Linked DNA regions of Homo sapiens: regions 2, 3 and 4 are each linked to region 1. Evidence: fine-mapped expression QTL. A gene starts in region 1. Each other region holds a variant in brackets. All regions are shown on one strand. Distances are from middle to middle.

Region 1 (5,486 bases):
TATTTGGAGTTGTTCGAATAATATAAGTTCCTCCCCCAAATAATCTGAAAAGTCGTTACTCTCCATTTGTAATTTAATGGGTAGACATGCATTTGAGTATATATAAATTTAGTAAAATTGAGCATAAAAGTTAAATGTTTAAAAGAATGATGCAGAAGCAATCAGCCTGTTGTTGGAAGGTAGGGACTGCAATAAAATTGCAGTTTCAATGCAATTTTATTCAACTTAATATAACCTCTACAACAATTCAGTGAGATGGAAATCTGGCATCAGGCATATATTTGAGGAATGGAATGGAAGAATAGAAATTGAACCAGATAAAACGCATCCTAGAAGTAACAGCAAATGCTTCAAGGAAGGCACTTACCAAAAGGCATACTATAACTTATTACATTTCATTAAGTCTGACAACCAGGGCTAAACCTGAATTAGAATATGTGCTTCTGGTATTTACCAGACTTTTCTCTATAAGGAATCCAGGCCAAACAAAATAACAGCCAAACTTTTGACATCTAATTGTAGTAAAAGCACAGGACATCCATCACTAGCTCTTCTAGTTAAACTTCCCACAAGAGAAGATGGGGAGTGGGGAACGGTTGCAAGAACAGGAGATAATACACAAAGCAATGACAACATAAAATCAAAATTGCTTAAAAGAATGTATGTTTCCTCTACGTCAGGGGGACAGTGTCCCTGAACAACACAGCCCATGAACTCACTTAAGGTGATGTGACACCTACTCACATCAATACATAGCAGAACTGCAAGTTGCATTGTCATGCGGTCCAACCCTGTGACATATGCACAAAGCTTTTCTCAAACATCTCTGAAAAGCAGTCATCACTCTGTTTAATCACTTCCAGTGACAGGGAACTCAGCACCCTATGGGACTGTTACTGTCCCTGAGGCCCATTAACTCAAAACTCAAACACATTTTCACCACTCAGGGAGAGGTGGAAGTGATCACAGGGCTCTCCAAAGGGCTTGCCAACCCAACTGTGCCTCCTGTCTCTACCATTCCCAAATCCCCCCTTTCCCTGAGCAGGACTCAAAATTAGCACAGTGTTAATAAATCAGTGGTTTCAGAGTTAGAAGGGACCCTTAAAAAGCCAATACTGTGATATTCATACCACAGTTCTACAAAAGGAATCTCAAGAAGTGCTTGGGCCAAACTGGGAGGGAGAGTGTCCTGTTTCTCTTCCTCTTATTTCAACCTAGGAAGCTCCCACTTTAATTTGTTACATATAGAGGACCAAGGTAGTTTTTTAAAAGGAGGAGGAGAAAAAAAGGACCATTTACAGGTAAATAAACTGAGGTCTTAAAACTTGCTTAATGAAATCATATAGCTAATAGTTGCAGGGTTCAGACAACAACCTCGTCTCTTGGCTCCTTCTCTGGTGCTTTCTCTACCAGATAACATCTGACCATCTACAGGGCAAAATTCAAACTCTGCAATGATACACAAAGCCCTTTAAGATCTCCGCGTCCAATTTTTATGAGAGTCCCACATTCCAGTCTCACTCAAATGTTTATTGAACCAACTTATGTCAGACTGTTACCTACCTCCACAGCTTAGCGCATACTATTCTCTTAGCCTGAGATGTCCTTCTGCACTGGAACCAACTAATCCTCTTTCAAGATTTGTTTTAGGCATCATCGCCTCTATAAAGCCTTTTCTGGTCCTCAGGTAGAACTGACCACATTCTTTTTGTGCCCTACACAACACCTGCAAGGCTTTATGGCACTTGTTTTATGTCTATGTCCGTCTACTCCACCACTGCTTTTACATCATATTACTCTAACACGAGGCTGGTCAGAAGGTAGGTGCTTCATAGACGGTCATCAATAGGGCGAGTGTATTCATCTGGTCCAATCCCCTTTCTAATGTTTAAGTATCCTCTGCTAACTGTCATTAATGCATGCATGACTACATTCATTCAAAAATATCTGAGTGTCTATACAGTGCCAAGTGTATGCCAAGCAGAGAAGGATTTACTGTGAAATTAATGAGGCTTAAGCTTTAGGGTCCCTCTCTTCAATCTTCCAAAGCTCTGAATCTTTCTTGGTGATTTTTATTTCTTGAAGAGGGCAGACAGAACTATATAAGCTGTAGGCCCCACAAAACCTAGATACCTCCTTGGTGTCACGAACACAAAAGGGAACAAGACAAACAGCTCTCCCCTTATGGAGTTTTCTGTTTAATGGGAAAGACAGCCATTTGTTCATTCACTCATTCAACAAACATTTACTAAGCAATGCTATGAGTCATGCATTCTGAGATGAAAACAACACTGTCCCTGCCCTTAAGGAAAAGGTTCCTGTTCCCAGGGAGATGAAGGGACACCTGCTCTGATCAGGGAACAGAAAGTAGTTGAGGTGACTGTAACACTGTGTTTGCGAAAGATTACCCTAAACCCGTCTCAAGAGGAACTGAGTCCTACTTATTGCAGAGACAAAGGGAAGAAAGAGTTCGGCTGAATACAGTTTTTAATCTCAACTAGGGGTGGGAGGCAGACAAGTAAATAGAACAGGCAAATATGGTGTGGTCAGTGCTGCAACAGGAAGCGAAGGACTGTCAGGAGGTTTCCCCTGAGTGCAAGTCTGTAGTGACGGCGAACTCATGACCTCACAAAGCCGCCCATGCACTTTCCAGATAGAGATTTCTGAGGATCTCCTTTCTTGTCCCCCAATCCCTGTCGCCGCAGGAGAAATCTGTTCCCCAATATGCGTCCCCCTTCCTCAAAATAAGGCTGTTCCTTCCCCCAAAAAGCTGTAGGGTCTCTGAGGCCAACTCTTCTGTCCCCCTTAGAGCCACCCCCTTCACACAATGCTTACGGGACGGGGTCTGGTTTGGGGCCCGGGGTCCCTGTCGCAGGACTGCCCCCTCCTCAACCCGCCGTTTCCATAGCAACCAGCTCACCACTTCGCGGGCCCGGCTGGAGAAGTCGCCCTTGGGCCGGGGGCTCCGGCGGAACAGCTCGTCCCGGCTGCCATCGACCCCGCCGCCCACCGCCACTCCCAGCGCCTTGTTCCGCGTCTTCACGGTCTTGACGCTGGCCCGGAATAGCAGCGTGATGTCCACCGCCATAGCGACCCGCACCCTCAGCCCCACACTAGGCCCGCCCACGTAAGCAGCCGGCGACCGCGGCGCGAACCCGGCCGCTGAAGGACTGGTCCTGCCCCACACGCCTCCCCCCGGCAACGGCGACGCGAGAAGAAAGGTTCCGGCCTGCGCCCTGCTACCGCGGCGGGAGGAAAAAGGTTCCGGCCTCAGCCGGCGCACCTGGCGGAGGAGGAACCTCGCGACGCGCTCTCGGGCATCGGTTTCTCCCAGCAAAGCTTGGAGGGTTTAGCTGCGCGGAGAGCTCAGCGAGCTCTTCTGTGTCTGTTTGGGGCGTGTGGGCTCCGGGAGCGTGAGGACCGGGAAGCTAGGAGGCTCCTTCCCTTCTGGCGGCTCCCTCACTGAGACCGGGCGGTTTGGTTGCGGGGGAAGTGGAGACGAGCCACCCTTGACCTTTGACTGCAAGAACTCACCTTGAGCAGGATAGAGGCACGTGGACGGTGACCCTCGGGATGCAATAAATGCTGAGACAGATCAGGTGTGCAAGGCACAGAGCTAGAGGCCAGAGGCCTTTCTTCTCCAACCTTCAGTCACCTCTTTTTAAAGTGAAGCCAGCATCCTCCTCGGGGTTTACTGTGAAAATTAAGTGAGCTGACGCGTGCTGTGTTTTGATGTTGCTTGGCTCCTAGTAAGTGGCCAATAAATGGTAGTAATCGTTAATAATGTTATTATTATAATCACTGTTATTTGTGGTAAAGGAAGAGGCTTTAGAGAAAAGGCGTCACCTGTGCAGAGATTTGAAGGATGAATAGGAAGTTTAGATGGAGACAAAGGTGAAAGAGTGGCCCTAATGCCGCTGGATTCTCTTCATCCTTCATGCATAGTTTTTAATTGTACCGTCTTGAGCCATAGCTATTAAAATTGACAACTCAATCAATGAGTTTCTTCTGCATTTTAGGTTCATGTTCTGTTTTGTGTTGTTTTTTGAGACGGGGGTCTACTATGTTGCCCAGGCTGGATTGCAGTGGCTAGTCAGAGGCGCCATCCTAGCTCACTACAGCTGGAACGCCAGGGCTCAAACGATCCTCCCGGACTCAGCCTCCTGAGTAGCTGGGACTATAGGCACGTGCAACCGTGCCTGGCCTATGGTTCAGTTTTAATTCAAAATCTCATTGATTTCTTCAAGATTTCTTTTTTCATAAAGAGGAAGCACAAGTAGAATATGTATTAAAACAGCAGTTTTAATGGTCATCAAGATAAAATTTTCACAATACTAAGATGTTATTTGCCTTTTCGCTCTGATTTTCTTATGAGTTGCATACAGTTGAGTTTGCTGGAGACTGTGATATTGCAACGGAGTAAATGCAGAACAGCTGTTTTCTATTAAGCCAGACTCCAAAAAAAGACTTTCAAAAACATCAAGTTTTTGTTTTGATTTCTCATATAGTAAATGTCGATAATGTCAATATAAACCAAAATTGTTTAGAGCCCTTAATAATTTTTAAGTGTGCAAAAGAGTTGAGACCAAAAGTTTGAGAACCACTGTGTTAAAAAAATAAAGTTTATCAGAAATAGATGTCAAGAAAGTATATATTTACCAGAAAGGAGGAAGGAAAAGATTTTTTTTTTCTTTGAGGCGGAGTCTTGCTCTGTCGCCCAGGCTGGAGCAAGCTCCGCCTCCCGGGTTCACGCCATTCTCCTGCCTCAGTCTCCCGAGTAGCTGGGACTACAGGCGCCCACCGCCACGCCTGGCTAATTCTTTTGTATTTTTAGTAGAGATGGGGTTTCACCGTGTTAGCCAGGATGGTCTCGATCTCCTGACCTCGTGATCCGCCTGCCTCAGCCTCCCAAAATGCTGGGATTACAGGCGTGAGCCACCGCGCCCGGCCAGGAAAAGATTATTTAAACCCAAACTGTAGCCACTTCTTGCAGTTTAAGGAAAATAAATTTCCATACAGCTTTCTTCCACCTACTGAGGAAAAGAGAAAGAAATTACAAAATCTCTGCCAATGATTCTATCTTGCATAAATGGCCCTTTGTTTAATCCAGACATTAATCAGTTTTTGGCCATGCAAAGTTAAGCCTGGGGTAGAGTAGAAGGAAAGAGAGATTGCCCTGCATAATAAAGTGAGGGGGATTGAATTGGGGGGAAGAAAAGAGAAGCCAGAACCCAGGGAGGGGGCCGGGAAAGTACAAAGTAGGTAACTGGGAAGGATCTTTGAGTGGGAGGGAGGCTGAACTACACCAAGCCTTCAGTGAGTGGTGCCTTGTGTAAACCGTGTGTTTGGTGCAGTTGGATATTTTGGGTAGAAGGGTAGGGACAAAGATCTAAGTTTTCTGTCTGGATTTGCAAGAGCAGAGAAGATTGTGGTGGATATAAGACCCAAGTGAGCTCAAAACATCAGGCTGTAAATCCACAAGTGAC
Region 2 (5,486 bases), 120 kb before region 1:
TCTTGTTGCAGTGCTCCTTCCGCCACACTTACCATCCCTCCTGCGCCACTCGCCGGTGACGGACAAAAACCTAAGAGCTATTGTTTGTGGAGCAGCCACCATATGCCAGGGGCTTCCCTTCTAGTCTCTCATTTCTTTCTGAAGTCCACAGAAGTAAGCTTTAAAATGTATGTGCTTCGAAATACATATGCTAGCTTCAAAAATAGTGCTTTGTGTTTTACTATCATCATATCTCTTAAAAAACAGGCTAAAATTTAAAAATCAAAATAGGATGCAGGATGCTTACAGAAAACGTTTACTCCAAACGAAGCCTTGAAAAGCTTGAGAAGCGTGGGATAACACAGGGGGCGTCTGGCCCCACAGGAGCAGAGACGGTGCTAGACGTCCTTACAAGCAGGAGTGCCTGCTTCTCTCCTCCTTTCGGTGGTGGTGAAGCTGCTTCCTAACAGGGTCAGGGCAGAATGAATGCTAGCGTGGGTTTTTAGAGAAACCTGACTGACACATTGTAGGGAGGAAGGCAGCATGTGGCCTCTGATTCCCAGCAATGAATATTACTGGGATGGCTTTGCCTCATCATCACCCCTTTTTAGAGAGTCTCAAAGTGTGAACTAAGTGACCACTGCCAAGGTTCCAATGAGAGAATCAATATGAACTACAATGCAACACTGATGGAAAAAACAAGAAAGACACATTGTTCCTCAGGACTTAGGAACTCCCAGTGGGCCGGGCGCAGTGGCTCTCGTCTGTAATCCCAGCACTTTGGGAGGCCAAGGCAGGTGGATCACCTGAAGTCAGGAGTTCGGGACCAGCCTGGCCAAGATGGTGAAACCCCGTCTTTACTAAAAATACCAAAATTAGCCAGGCGTGGTGGCATGCCTGTAATCCCAGCTACTCAAGAGGCTGACTGAGGCAGGAGAATCGCTTGAACCTGGGAGGATGAGGTTGCAGTGAGCCAAGATAGCAACATTGCACTCCAGCCTGGGCGACACAGCAAGACTCTGTCTCCAAAAAAAAAAAAAAGAAAAAGAAAAAAAAAGAAAAGAAAAAGAAACTCCCGGTGAGCCAAGGCAAGGCTCTGCCTATGCTCTGCACGCCCCTCCCAGGCCCCCTGGAGCCGCTGGGAGGTTTGAAGCAGGGTAGTGTTATTAAAAAGGGCGACTCCTATGAACCCGAACTTGCAAACCACTGTTAGACTTAATGTACCTCATTTACAATGATTTCACTCTGGCTGTGTGGTTTATGGAAAGTCATTTTGTGAGTGAAGTATCTTAAGTCAAGTAGTCCAGTTTAAAATACTGGAGAAAATTTTGTCTTTCAAACGTTCCCATAGTCTTTGGATGCTAAAAATAAAAGGGCAAATTTATCAGGTCTTGAAAAGTTTTGCCAGTTATTGGCTGGAAGAATTTCAGAAAATTCACTTGAAAAGAACAATCCTATTTCCCACGCAGACACCATCCCTGAGGTGGCATGGACCGCGCGTTGTGAGAGGCCTGGGTCTGAGCTCCTGTAACCTACTGACTGAAAAGCAACTGCCCGTCAGCATCGTGCTGGATGCTTCTGCAGTTATCTCTCAAACAGAGAATAACCCTGCAGGAGTCCCTCCCTCCTATAGATGGGAAACTGTAGCTTGTGGGGGCTACCTAGCTTACCCAGCACATCCAGAACCCTGACTGCCAGGCCTGGACTCTCCTCCCACGTGCCACCGCATGTGCTACCACATGGGGTGGTCAGTGGGTCCCCTGTGGGGAGCTCCTCCTCCATCACACGTGTGCAGAGGCAGCTCTGGGTAGTGAGAGCTTTTCCCTGAGGAGCTCTGCGCACACACACCTGCTAGCAACACATGGCTCTGCTCCTGGCTGTGTAGAGCAGCAGCCTTTGGGAAAAATGTCTCGTGCTCTCAAGTACATTCCCCTTTGAGTGAAAACATACAGCTCCTTTGTTTTTGTTTTTTTACCTGTTGCAAAACCTTTTCCGTGAATATCTCTTGGAGTCTGGAAATCTCAACCACTCTCCCTTCGATTTGCCTTCATAAAAAGAACAGATTACATATTAACTATTAGCACTTGGTAATCTAACAGGACTGTTACACACTTCTAAAGAAATCCTATCTTCTACGTGAAGGTGGGAGAGACAGGGGGCACACTGTGTCGGCTGGGGGAAGAGGAGATGGGAGAGGAAGGCGAACTCTCCTTACTGGGTCACCTTCCCTGTCTTCTGGCATAGCCTAGCACACTGGTCTTTTTGGAAGTCCACTCTACCATGCCAACTGACCCTCAGTCCCAAGAGGTGGGTGTGTGCAGTGCCCTTTGCATTCTGTGTCACTGCTCGGGGAATGGGGAGGGCCTGGTTGTGCCCCAGTTACAGAAAGCAGTCTCCAGTAAGTTCTCTGCCTAGCCTCATCACCATGGTAACACATGGTGGGGATTCAGAAGGTCAGAATATGCTGATGATCCAGCTTTGTTAATGCTCAGCAGGTTAAAGAAAAAAGTGTATTTACCTTCAAACCAACTCCCTGTTCCAAGAAAAAAGCTCCTCTGATTCATTTAGAAAATGCCATGTCTTGGTTTGGCAACGGAGTGTTCTGTCGGATCTGAAACACTTGGGCTAGCCATCTTCCTGGTGTCAGGGGCAGCATGGGCTACCCTGGGGGGCGGGTGGGGGCACATCTATTTAGAAACAGAAGCTGGCCCAAGCTGAAGTCAACTGCTGTTCCAGCACAAAGCAGCGACAGGAAGTGACAGGAGGCAAAAAGTGGTGGGAGCTGAGCTCCTGGCCAGGTGGAAGCAGTGATGAATCCCAACAGTATCACAGTGGCAGGGGGCAGGGGAGGAGATGTGGGAAGAAAAGCCAGTGAGTATCTGGGCATGGGGGAGTAGCGGGGTGGGGGCGGTAGTGGGGCAGACAGTGAAAGCTAGGCTGTCAGAGGAGGACTAGGAGGTCCATCTCTGAGGGCAGAAGGCGAAGAGCCCCTTGGAGGCTGACACCTACACTGAGAAAGTCCTCAGGCTGTGTGAGTGCAGCATCAGGATTGATTTTATTTGGGGGACATGTCCACAATACAACAGGCTCTGCAAAGTCCTGGGCCTTACTTTCAGCATGCTCCAAGCCTTCCCACAGAAACTAGAGGCTAA[C/T]GGGTGCATGTGTGAGTGACCAAGGCCTTGCCTTCTGCATTCCTGACTCCCTGGTGGGTACAGGAGCAGGCAGACCCCAGTGGAACCATTTGCAGAAGAGGGCTTCCCTTGGTTAGCTGCCCTTCATAAGGGCCCCATTTCATTTCAGAGTCGCTGCGTGGAAACAGCCCGAATGGTGGTGGAAATTATACGCAGGTAATCTGTAGTCACTCCTGTATCTCTCGGGGTGGGAAGCACCTGGGCCCCCCGCAGCAGTGGCAGCAGGCAGGAGGTAACCCACAGGCCCACAAGCTGAGGGAGTTGTGGATTCAGGCCACATGCCCACCCCAGCCCAGTCAAAATGGCTGAGGGGGGCTGCACCAGCCCAAGGGCCCCATGGGGATGCCTGGGCACCAAGGTAAATAAAGTTCCTAGTTCCTGGAAAAGTTGTAAAGCAGGCTATCAGCTCACAGAGGAGCTACAAACATACCTCACTTCATCAAACAAGCTGTTCATTTCACCAATTAGTCGCTGATTTTCCTGTTCAAACTGTGAGGAAACAGACACACTCAGGATGACATCATACTGAACTTAGGCAAGAGTCTAGCAAGAAAGCGGACCTACGCTCCAGGAATCACTGCCGAAGCCCCCATTTCCAGCTGCGGCAACGTGGCAGCCGGTGCTGGACGACCGTTAGCATTAGTGTGAACAACGTCCCTGCTTTCAGGAGAAAGTTTTAAAAAACAGCTGTGCTGCCTGGTAATTGACTTCTCCATCTCAACCACTGCACTCCAGGGGTACAAGCTGACTGCTATGGCTGTAGCTGTATCTACCTACCCGCTCTCCCCTGGGATCCCACGGCCTGCTTCCTGACTCTAGTACCATTATTAAGAAAATTCTTTTGTTGTTGTTTTCTCTCATGAACTATACTGAAGGACTATACATATTTTTTAATATGGAGAAGGATCTGGTGTGGGGAGGGTCTGGAGAGGAAGGGGAGGTGGGCAGCTTGGCCGAGCTGCCTCTGGGCCCCTCTGACTTCAGAGCCTGGCCACTCCACTGCTCAACAGGGACAGAGGCCCAGAGCCAGAGGAGCGTGTTTCCCAGTGCTCAGGCTGGGTGAGGACGGGTGCCCTGACACCAGGGATACATGGGAGCTTCTTGGAGCTGAGTGAGCTTGGCACAGACAGTTGCTCTCCCAGCCATTCTTGCCAGTTTGATATGGGCCAAAGAAAAGGATGGAAGCTCCTGAAACTCAGCACAGAGAATGGACAGGAACAGCTCCTTGCCCTCACTGCAGGCCCCCACAGCCCTGTCCTCGTGTGTCCACTCAACTCCCGCAATGTGCAGGGAGTCAGGGGCGTCCTGCATTTCCTCCCCGATGCATCCCGCAGGCCCCACTTCTCCAGGACACCTACCCTGGCCCCTAAGCTCAAACTTATTTCTCATATTCCTATCCTTGGCCTACCATTTTCTGAAAATATCTTAGGATAGTAGCGCCCAACGGTCCCTTTCTGCCTTGTAATAAACTGTGCCCATCCCAAACTTCCCGTGTCACCCTGAGCTTCCTGAGGGCGGGAACTGGGTGGAACATAACTTTGCAAAGGCATTCCAGTTGTTCTTTCTTTCTTATAGATTAAAGCTGCCATCAAATCCACAAATATTTTCTGAGGCATTCTGTAAGCAGGAGTGGGAGGGATACATACAAGCAAGCCTCTGGAGGCTCCGAATCGATGGAAGATCTGGCTTATCACTTGCTTAGTAAACCAAAAATACAAGGGAAACAATGGTTATGGGAGGCAGCTGACCACCACGGGCTATGCTGGCACTTCATTCAACAGCCTGACCTTGTTGCCATTGTCCTAGGGCGGAAATGAGTTGCAGGGTCTCCCCAGCAGCCTCCTTCCCACCCAGGACCCCTCCCCTCCAAGTACCCCAGCTGTGCTCTATGCAGGCGCTCTTCACACACACGCCCCTTCCTAAGTCCACCAGTTTCGCCCCCGCACATGCACTTGCTGTATTCAGCCCTTCCCCTACCGTCCACATTCCACCCTCACCGTTTCTCACTTGCCTCCAACCTGTTATCCAATCCTTGGTCAAAGTGATCTCAAGTGCTGGTCATGCCAGAATGCCTCATGGTGGCCTTGCCCGCTGACCCTACAGATCAGGTCTAGGGCACACTGTTATCCATGCCCTGGCCACGTGACATCTCCCATCTCAGCTCTGCTCTGACAGGCTAGTTTCCTGCCTGGCTGCAGAACTCCACGTGGTCCCTCAAAACCCCAGGCATCTTCCTAGCGATCTGATACCTCAGGGCAGACTGAATCACCTTCTCTTACTTTCTCACTCTTGTTACCAAGTTCCCCTGTACTTGGC
Region 3 (5,486 bases), 77 kb before region 1:
AGGCAGTATTTCTACACATATTCTTTCAATTCCATGATCATACTCCACATAAAATGTTCCTAGGAGCAGGCCAAGGCTAGCACATTGCACTGGGAGGGCAGAAGAGTAAAAAAGAAAGGCTTTAAGCAGTCTACCACCTTTGGGAGGGAGAACTTGATGAGAGACAATAAGGGTGGTCTTTCTCCACCTGGACAGAACCTGGGCTACCGGGGGGAATGCTTATTCCCTAATCCTCATGTTTCTGTGGGAACCAACTTCCCCAAATGACACCTTGCCTCCTCCCAGAGCCTCCTCCCTCTGGCCCCCTCGCAGAAAGCATGGGGTGTGCATATAGTCACCACACCTTTCTCTCCTCTCTTTTACCTACTTAGAGACAGCAGAGGTTCCGCTCTGTTCCTCTCTCTCCTATGTTGCAAAGGGGCCTGTCCCTGCTGTCTGTGCTCCAGGGGCTGCGGCTGCGCAGTGGCACTAATGCCTGAGTGTGTCTAATTCAAGAGCAGAGTATCAACAAGGCCACCCGCCTGCAAACCAAAGCTTTGTTTGCTGACCTAGATTTTACCAATGATAAAGCTGATATGACACGTGGGTCTCCACTGTGTTGATCTGACTCCTGCCTCCATTTCTTTCTTTCTCCCTCCTCCCAGCTCTCTGGCAGGAAACAGAGGTGGGTTTTGTCTTGTTCAATAACCAACACCCTCCAACCCCCTGCAACTGCAGCATAGGTCAAATGGGGTTCCAATTCAATTATCATTCACCAGGAGACTTCTATGTGTCAGGAACTCTCATACCCACCTAATTTAATCCTCACGAGAACATCATCCACATTTTATAAAAAAGAAAACTAGCACAAAGGCAAGTTATATTCATTCACATGATAAATACATGGCAGGATTGGGACTGGAACTTAGGTGTGACTGACCCCAAAGCCCATGCTCTTTCACAGGGACCAAAACAGGGGGTGGAGTAGAATTCAGTGTGCATGAGTTGGCAATGAACAACTGGCCTCGGGAAAATGAGTAAAAGATAAAAGACTGAGTTTCTAGCTGGGTATCATGTCATATGCCTATAGTCCCAACTACTCAGGAGGCTGAGGCAGGAGGATCACTTGAGCTCAGGATTTTGAAGCTAACCTGGACAACATAGCAAAACCACCTTAAAAAAAAAAAAAAGACTGAGTTTCTAGAATGAGGCGATGTACCTAACAAAATGAAGAATGCCTCGGGGACAACAGTTCTATCTTCTGAAGTTATCTGCCCTTAAGTGGCAGAGCTGGCACTGGCCCCTAGGGAACCCAATCCTCAGTCCTAGCATTTGCTGCCCTTGTAGCTGGGAAAGGGGAAGGCTTAGGCCCTTCTTTACTGTACTAAGATGAGAATCCATGCTGCAGTAGTCTGGGAACACTGAAAAACAGTGTGCAGGAGCCTCCTTTTGCTGTTTGAGTATAATAACTGCCTTAACATCACTATTACATCGAAAGCTTAAAACAACTGCAAAGTTGCAGAAGAACACCCGGATGCCACTGTGTTGTTCTTTTCACATTGCATTTGAATCATACTGTCTGCTTTGAACCTCTCAACTGCTTCCTGAGTGAGTATCCCTCCCACTGTTGGCTTTGCAAATTTTTTCTGAAAAGGGCCAGAGAGTAAACATGTTAGACTTTGTGGGCCTTGTAGCCCATCACAGCTACTCAACTCTGCTGTTGTAGCATAAAAACAGCCCTAGACAATATGTAAACAAATGAACGTGGCTGTGTGCCAATAAAACTTTATTATGGGCACTGAAACTTGAATTTCACATAATGTTCACATGTGATAAAATATCCTTATTACTTTTTCCCCAACATTAAAATATGTAACTACATTTAAAAGTATATTTAAAATGTAGATTTGGCCTGTGGCTGTTATTTGCTGACCTGTAGCATTAGAGGAAGACACTGAGTTTCACAGATTCACATGGTTCGTAAGGAGTGGTGTGAATCAAACCAACACTCTAAGCATTTACTTTGCTGGATTTCTTTTCAAGGAAAAGGGAAGTTAATAAGTGATTTGTATGAAAGATATTTACAACCACCTCGTCAACCTAACTTGTCAGATACTAAAGAAAGAAGCTACAAATTGAGAGCTTTATACAAGTTTTGTAAAGTTTTACAAAATCACTGTAGCTTCCATTTTTTACAGCCTATCAAATCAGTATTTGATACACATACACACCTTTAGAAATAAAATTGACACTGCGATCTAGTGTTAACCAACTATTTTTAACTCAGAGCTTAAAAATAAGGTTTTCTTGGTACTATGCATCGGAATAATTATTTTAGTATATTCCAAAATAATGCAAATGAAGTGCATTTAAAAGCATAAAATTGCCTATGGATGTTAAGTGCAAGTAGACAAAGCATCAAGGATTATTTAAAATTCAACTAGGGTATAATTATTTTTCTCTATTGGAGAATTTATAAGAAGTATTTCCATTTTTGCATATATTGACAAAGTTAAAAAAAAGCAGGATTTATTTTATATTCTCTATCTTTGTGACAGGAATGCTTCTGAAAGGCAACCACCCCTCGTTTTATAAAGATGAAATCCTAAAAAGATGCTCCTAATGATGTTATCTTATCTGTCAAATCCAACTTTTTCATTAATTTACATAATACATTTGAAGATGAGTCCTACGGTAAAATGCCATCCTAAAGCCAGTGCAAATGGAGCTAGGGGAAGAGACGAGACAAGACACCTGTACTCCCACTGTCTATGGAGAGCTGGAGTCTATTCCAGAAAGCGTTTTAGAAGTGTTGCTTATAATGTTTTTTTCTCTTTTTCTTTCCAAATGG[C/A]ATTTTCGATGACTTGCATCATTCCTTCATCTGCTCGATAAATATTTAGTGTGTGAGAAACTATCTTTTTCATCTCTGCATGTTTCACTACAGGACAGACGCTGTCTGCAGGGTGTATGCACGTGCCAACCCCTTTGCATTTGGATTCCCTTCCCTCCTTCTTGCTTTACCTAGGTAACTCGTACTCCTTCAGAGCTCAGCTCAAATGTCACTTCTTTAAGGACACTTTCTCTGACAAGGCTAAATTCCTCAAAAGCTACCTGTTTGCAGTAGTTTCAAAGAACTTCTTGATTTCTGCCTTAATTTCATTATTTACCCAAGAGTCATTCAGGAACAGGTTGTTTGATTTCCATGCAGTTGTATACCTGTGGGGTCAGTGGTGACATCCCTCTTAACATTTCTAACTGTGTTTATTTAAATCTTCTCTCTTTTCTTCTTTATTAGTCTAGCTAACAGTCTATCTCATTAATTTTTTGCAAAAACCTGGATTTTTCCAAAAAAGTGGCTCCTGGATTCATTGATTTTTTCGAAGCGTTTTTTTTTTTGTGTGTGTCTCTATCTCCTTTAGTTCAGCTCTGATCTTGGTTATTTCTTGTCTTCTGCTAGCTTTGGGGTTTGTTTGCTCTTGGCTCTTGTTCTTTTAGTTTTGATGTTAGGTGTTAACTCGAGATCTTTTTAGCTTTTTGATGTGGGCATTTAGTGCTATAAATTTCCCTTTTAACACTGTGTTAGCTGCATCCCAGAGATTCTGGTAAGTTTTATCTTTGTTCTGTTGGTGGGAGCATAAATTAGTTCAACCACTGTGGAAGACAGTGTGGCGATTCCTCAAAGACCTAGAGGCAAAAATACCATTTGACCCAGCAATCCCATTACTGGGTATCTACCCAAAGGGATACAAATCATTCTATTATAAAGACACATGGACAAGTACTTGTATGTTCATCACTGCATTATTCACAATAGCAAAGACATGGAATCAACCTAAATGCCCATCAATGAATGATAGACTGGATCAAGAAAATGTGGAACATATACATCATGGAATACTATGCAGCCATAAAAAGGAATGAGATGATGTCCTTTGCAGGGACATGGATGGAGCTGGAATCCATTATCCTCAGCAAACTAACGTAAGAACAGAAAACCAAATACCACATGTTCTCACTTATAAATGGGAGCTGAATTATGGGAACGCATGGACATGAGGCGGTGGGGAACAATACAAACTGGGGCCTGTTGGAGGATCAGGGGTGGGAGAAGGGAGAGCATCAGGAAGAATAGCTAATGGATGCTGGGTTTAATACCTGGGTGATGGGATGATCTGTGCAGCAAACCACCATGGCACACATTTACCTATGTAACAAACCTGCACATCCTACACATGTACCCAGGAACTTAAAAGTTGGAAAAATAAAAAGCTATCTGTACTGTTTTTGCAGTACCTATCATATCTGCAATGTTACCTGTTGACATGAATACCTTAGCAGCTCCATGAAGGCAGGGACAACCATGTTTGTGTTTGTTCACTATTTTATACTCCATGCCTGGCATAGTCTATGGCACATGGTAGGCACTCAATAAATAACTGCAGAATGAATAAGCTGATTAATGAATCAAATTGATCAAATCATGGCACTATAAACATGCAGAGATGAGTAGGACACAGTTTTTCACCTCAAGAAATGTGGTAGAAGTGATTACGAACAAATTACTCTTCTACCAGGCACATGTGAAAAGTACCATAAGAAAAGCACAGAAAAAGAGCTGTCAGTATTCAGAGGCAGGAGAGATGGCTTTCAGATAGGAAGGCAGGGCCAGGGCAGGCTCTACCGAGAAGGTGGTGGTGATAAATGGGTCTCTCAGGATGGAAGCATGTGAACATGTGACATGTGTGGATTGGAGTGAAGAGCAACAGGCCAACCTGATAGTGTGAGTAGAGGCCTGGAGGCAGAACAAATGTTAATTCTGAATGCAGCTGTAGGGCACATGAAGGAAAGGGGTAGGATGGAAAAGTGGGTGAGGGTAATGAAAAGTCTTGCTTATCTAAGAAGTATGGATGGGCCACATCCTGCAGGCAGAGAAGGGATTTGAAGAGGGAAGCACGTGATTCCATCTACGATGATAAGGACTACACCTGTGCCTTCCAGACAGACCAGGAGAGGAAGGGACAAAGAGCAGGGAGTTGAGAACAAAGAGATCAGGCAAGTGACAAAGGCTGCACTGAAGCACTCTAGAGCGGATGGGAGGAGCGGGCAGCATGCATGGGAATGGTGCTGCTCACAGGTGCTGGGCGAGCAGGACAGTGGCAATGGGGACTGGGAGAAGCCTGTGCCTATGACATGCATTTAGGAACAACTGTAATTGCCCAACAGGTTCATCTTGCCCACCGCCCAGATAGAGCTGATTTATCAAGACAGGGGAACTACAATAGAGAAAGAGTTAAATATACATAGAGCTGTCTAAAAGGGACACTGGGGTTTTATTATTACTCAAATCAGCCTCCCTGAAGATTTGGAGGCTCGATTTTTAAAAGCCAGTTTGGTGGGCAGGGGGCTAGGGAATGGGGAATGCTGACTGGTTGGATTAAGGATGAAATCCTAGGGAGTCGAAGCTGTCCTCTTGCACAGAGTCAGTTTCTGGGTGGGGGCCATAAGAC
Region 4 (5,486 bases), 36 kb after region 1:
AGGGCCTTAGGGGAGGGTAGGTCATTAGGTAGAAAGTTGGGCATTGCAAGGCGAGAAAACAGTGTATGAGCTGCTGTGAAAGACATGGGAAGGGGAGAAGCTCAGGCTGTTTCTCCTCCACCAGAGAATGCCCTCCTCCTTCCTCCCCCTTCCTCCCAACACACACACACACACAACACACACACACACACACACACACACCAGTTTTCTCCCGGAAACTGAGCTAATCCAGCCACGCCCCGACAGACATTTGCAGTGATTTTACACACACACACACACACACACACACACACCAGTTTTCTCCCTGAAATTGAACTAATTCAGCCAGGGCCCCCCTACAAACGTTTGTAGTGATTTTACTCCCAGCGTGGACTCTCCTGCCCGGTCAGCTTCAAGGATTCCTTTGGTCCCAGAAATAGCCAAGGTGGCGGTGAAGGGAGGAGCTGTTTCATTTCCGAAATGAAAAAGTTTAAGATAATTACACAGACGGCTTGAGCCTGCAATGGACAAAAAGTTTCATTATTGGACCCCTTTGGGGAAGGCGCCTCCCATCCCCAAAGGAGCGGGTTAACCGCTCGGCTGGCGCGGCCCCGCCCGGGTCGCCGTCTGAGAGGGACGGTCGCGCCCCCTTTGAAGTGCGGCCGCGCCTAATGAGGGACTCGCTGGGCCTCGGGATCAAGTGTCAGCGCCGCCCCAGACGCCGCAGGGCAGACAAAGGGCGCGGGCCGCCTGGCGGCGCTGGGAGGAGCGTGCGGCCCGCGGCGCTGAGCGGGACAAAGGCGGAGACGGGCGCGCGGCGGGGTCCCACGGGCAGAAGAGCCTGGCCTCCAGCGCCCGGCGCCCGGTTCGCTGCCTCCGGAGCCCCCAAGAGCCTCTCTGAGGGCGGGAGCGGTAGCGCAGGCCACGCCGACGGCGACCACAACGCGCCTGCGCCAAGCCCCGGCCCCAGCGTAACCTCGTGGGTGACAGTGTGACCTGGGTTTTCTCCGATACGCGCGATGTGCCCGCTGAGGGCAATATAGCACCCCCCTCGCACCTCACCCTTAGGCGTGCCAGGCACTCTTCTAAATCCGAGCTTCTATTAACCCATTTCCTGTCCTGCATCACTTTGCAAGGTGGGTGGGGTGAGTAGCCCCATTGTCCAGCTCACTCCATTCTACAGATCAACCCATTGTATAGCTCACCCCACTGTCCAGCTCACCACATTGTACACGTCACTTCATTGTACACATCAGCCATTGTACAGACCACCCCATTGTACAGATCACCTCGTTGTACAGATCACCTCATTGCACAGATCACCCCATTGTACAGATCACCTCATTGTACCGATCGTCCCATTGCACAGATTGTCCCATTGTACACATCACTCCATTGCACAGATCACCCCATTGAACACATCACCTCATTGTACAGATAACCCCTTTGTACAGATCACCTCATTGTACAGCTCGTCCCATTGCACAGATCGCCCCATTGTACACATCACCCCATTGTACACATCACCCCATTGTACAGATCACCCCATTGTATAAACCACCCAATTGTGCAGATCCCATTGTACAGATCACCCCACTGTACAGATCTGTGAAGCGAGGCGCAGAAGGAGTCCCAGATCACAGAGCTAGAAGGGATGCTGCTGGGCAGGGTGGCCTCAGAGTCCCAGACAGATGTTTAAATATTTGACATTTTTGTCGTCTTGTGTGTGTATGTGTTTTTAAAAACCCTTCATTTATTTATTTAAATTTAGAAATATATTTACTTTGATTAAAAATATATTACATTAAAGTATTCTTTATCTTGGTTATTGAGATTTTGGGCGCCCTCTTAAATTTTGGGTCCCAGGCGAGTGAGGCCCTGTCTGGCTTTTATGCCTCTTTACTGCCTGGGTCGAGGCTTTGGATCCTCACAACAAGCTCTCGCAGGCAGGGTTACTGACCCCTTGGATATTTCAGAAGGGGAAAAACTGAAGCTCAAAGATGTGAAGTGACCTGCCCAGGGATGCCCAGCAGGGACTGTGACACCAGCTAGTTAAGGTACCAAGTCAGTACCTTGCAGGCCCTTAGCTACCTTTGTTTTGTGGAGCCTGGCCGTCATCATAGCAAACTTCAAAACACATTACATATGGCCTTTTTATTCCATAATATCTGAAACTATATTTTAAAAATAATTTTGATTTTGCTTTTAGTTGGCTACAAGGCACTAATTTACAGTGGCTGTGATTTCACAGAAATGATTGGGTGTACTGGGAAATTCTTGCAAAGTGAGAAAATTAAATCCTTTTCACATGTAATGAAATTTTTAGGAATAATTAATTTAGCATTTTAATGATGTTGACACGGTGCTACCTTCTGTAGACATTTAATTAGACATTTATTAGTTTTGACTTTGTAGTTTGCTTTCCTCCTGGTGGAGCCAAAAATTACTTTTCCAGGTCTCCAGCATTTTTGTTGGAAATCCCTTCCAGCAGCATGGGGGTCCCAGGCAACTTTCTTAGGGTACCCAACCCCTAGGATGGTCCTGCCCACTTCAGTCCCCCACCTCCTCCCCATGCTAGGGGTGGGGCACCTCCCATCTTTCTAGTGTCCTGGCTTTCATGT[G/A]AGCAGGACCTTCTCAGGTCAGGCCCTGCTAAGCTGTAGATTCCCTGGAGTCCAGTGTGATTGTAACCATGTCTCAATCACCAGCCTAACTCTAATAGAAGGAGGGTACTTGTCAGTGCTGAATTGAATTGTGAGTTTCTCATGAGAGGTTGGGGTAGAAGAACATGAGATATTAAGTGTACCAGAAAAAGGATGGGTAGTTCTGGTGTGTTTCAGTCAGCTCTGGCTGCTATAACAAAATACCATAGCCATAGGGTGGCTCAGATAACATTGACTTCTCATAGGTCTGGAGGCTGAAAGTCCAAGAAGTAGGGGCCAGCTGATTCTTGTCTGGTAAGGGCTCCTGTCCTGGCTTGCGGATGGCTGCCTTCTTGCTGTGTTCTCACATAGTGGAGAGAGAGAGGGAACAAGCTCTCTGGTCTCTTCCTATAAAGGCACTAATCCAGTCATGAAGATCCCACCCTCATGACCTCATCTCAACTAAACTATCTCCAAAGGCCCCACCTCCAAATACCAACCTTGGGAGTTAAGGCTTCAACATATGAATATGGAGGGAACACAAACATTCTGTCCATAACATGGTGCTACTACTCATGTTGTGTGTCCCCAGGGAAGTTTCTGCACCTCTCTGTTCCTCAGTTTCCCCTTCTGGAAAATGAAGGTGGATCAGAAAATTTCCTATCTGAAGCTCCTTTCAGTGCCATCATTCTCTCATATGGGTTCATGGAAGAAGCAGTTTGGTTTCATGCAACTGAGCATTAGGGAAAGGTAAAGTTCTAATGGCCTACTTTCGCAAATGGGGTCAAATAGATATTTTCTCCAGTGATAGCCTGTGATTCTCTGTGATTTTTTTTTCTGGGTGCACTCTCCTCACTTTTCCTTGAATCCTTAGCAGACACTGCCATGGTCTTTCTGTGTGTCTCATGCCATTGTGACTTGTGTGACCACCAGGCATTGGGCTTGGCATGTGGCAGGTGCTCATTGCAGGAGGGAACATCTTTTCCAGATGAGGAAACTGAGGCACAGAGAGGTCTGAGTCAATGCAAAAGCAATCTAACTGCTATGATGTTTCTGCACAGCCTTCTCTGGAAGAGGAGAGATTTTATATATCTGCAAATTGCATGGACTTTCTTCTTACCTGTACCCAAACCACAGCTGCATGAGGTCAGTGAGGGACACTGTGTTCCCACTAGAACAGCTTTCAGGGCAGAAGACAGCTTTCCTCCTTACAAAGGAATCTCACATCCAGTCCTCCACAACCTATTTTACCCAAAGGCTTCTGACTAAAGACAGCTGTCTGGGGGCCCAGGAGCCAGGGTGCCAGTTCCAGCCCTGGCACAAGCATTCTTTGTGACTTGGAGCAGGTCCCTTACCCTCTTGGAGCCTTTGTTTCCTCCTCAGGGAACCAGAAGTCTGGACTAGATCAGAGCTTCTCAAATCATCCGAGGATCCTGTTAAAATGTGGAGCCTGATGAGGAGACCTGCTGGGGGCAGACATCCTGCACTTCTAACAAGCTCCCAGAGGATGCAGTTACTTTTGCCCATCTGTGGATTCACTGAGGAGCAAGCAGGACTTCTAAGGTCACCTCTTGCTCTGAAGGGACAGACCTTGAGCCCTGGCAGTGGGCACAAAGAGAGTGACAAAAACAAAAAACAAACAAACAACAACAACAACAAAAACCCAGTTGCCCAGATTTGGGTCAGCCAGGAGAGCACAGAATGTGAAATGATTCCAGAGGGATCCTTCCAACCACAGATACAAAAATCAACATCGTCATCGTCACCATCAGCAAACATTTGTGCAGTGCTTTCCCCTGTCCTGAGCAGCTGTCACATCCTTGAACCCAGTTGACCCCTACAGGCACCCTGGTGGGAGAGGAGGACACGGCTGAGGAATCCATTCAGTCCCGGTGGAGGAGCTGGGCAAGAGCACAATAGTCCCTGAAAGGATTGTTTCCATGCAGCCCTTTGATTTTCTTAGCATTTTTTTTTTTTTGGTGCCTGCTTTCTGACCCCTTCTTCCTTTGTCTCCTAATGCACCCCCACCCCGCTCCTAATTCTTCCCTCCCCCAACACACACACACACACACACACACACACACACACACAAAAACGTCAGGAGGAGAAAATCAGTGTATCCACCCACAGATTTCTCACTTTGATCCTTTCCTGTCTCACCGCCTGGAACCCAGCTTCAGAGACCAGGATTCTGGCTCGTTTTGGGGTGACCCAGTCACTTCCACTCTTCTCACTTGTAACTATGCAATTTTCCTTAAGGTGACATTTGTGAAGGATTTATGTTGTCTGGGCACTATGCTGAGTGACTTCATTCTCACTTCACCCTAGGGAGTGGGAACTCTTAACTATCTCCACTTCATTGGTGAGAAAACTGAGCCTTTAGGATGTTTGCCTGCCCAAGGTCACCTAGTTAGTAAATGATGGAGTCAGGACATTACCTGACCTTGGCTGACTGACATCAAAGATCATTGTAGATGAACGCACAGTTGTAAGAAGTAATACAGAGAGATTTGTGTAACTCTTATCCAGTTTTCTCCAAAGGGAGCATCTTGCAAAACTGTACTACAATATCATAACAAAGATATTGACACTGATAAAATCCACCAGCCTTATTCAGATTTCCTCAGTTTTACTTGTCCTCATGTGAGTGTATTTAGTTCTTTGCAATTTTAACATGTATGTAGGTCCATGTATGTAGCGCCACAGTCAAGATACACAACAGCTCTGTCAGCACAGGCTTCTGCAGCCTTTAATAATCACATCTACTTCTCCATGTCACCCAGCATCCCTCATTCTTGTAACACTAAACCTGTTCTCTATCTCTATAATTTCATTATTTCGAGAATGTTCTGTAAGTGGAAGTATATG

The links. PIP is the estimated chance that this variant, and not a neighbour inherited with it, causes the effect.
Region 2: its variant is the best candidate, but not a certain one, in a credible set for the expression of STX18 in hippocampus (GTEx, PIP 0.59).
Region 3: its variant is the best candidate, but not a certain one, in a credible set for the expression of STX18 in testis (GTEx, PIP 0.61).
Region 4: its variant is the best candidate, but not a certain one, in a credible set for the expression of STX18 in whole blood (TOPMed, PIP 0.87).

Annotation. Positions count from the first base shown.
Region 1 is chr4:4,538,877-4,544,362 of GRCh38, forward strand. It overlaps STX18 (syntaxin 18), which reads right to left and starts at 3,172. Exons shown (of 11, transcript NM_016930.4): 1 at 2,921-3,172. The coding sequence starts at 3,088. LOC124900165 reads left to right here and starts at 3,255. Exons shown (of 6, transcript XM_047416490.1): 1 at 3,255-3,599. It overlaps STX18-AS1 (STX18 antisense RNA 1 (head to head)), which reads left to right and starts at 3,255. Exons shown (of 6, transcript NR_037888.1): 1 at 3,255-3,599. RefSeq lists enhancers at 3,042-3,321, 3,046-3,340.
Region 2 is chr4:4,421,564-4,427,049 of GRCh38, forward strand. STX18 (syntaxin 18) reads right to left here. Exons shown (of 11, transcript NM_016930.4): 8 at 3,601-3,659; 9 at 1,955-2,024. Among named protein-coding and RNA genes, the nearest start is that of NSG1, 37 kb to the left of the region's middle. RefSeq lists an enhancer at 5,457-5,486. The variant C/T (reference allele first, on the strand shown) is at 3,132.
Region 3 is chr4:4,461,539-4,467,024 of GRCh38, forward strand. All of the region lies in intron 2 of STX18 (syntaxin 18), which reads right to left. Among named protein-coding and RNA genes, the nearest start is that of STX18-IT1, 17 kb to the right of the region's middle. The variant C/A (reference allele first, on the strand shown) is at 2,831.
Region 4 is chr4:4,574,715-4,580,200 of GRCh38, forward strand. All of the region lies in intron 2 of LOC124900165, which reads left to right. The region is part of intron 2 of STX18-AS1 (STX18 antisense RNA 1 (head to head)); the gene reads left to right. LINC03091 (long intergenic non-protein coding RNA 3091) reads right to left here and starts at 1,177. Exons shown (of 5, transcript NR_199719.1): 1 at 1,042-1,177; 2 at 344-497. RefSeq lists a silencer at 611-970. The variant G/A (reference allele first, on the strand shown) is at 2,601.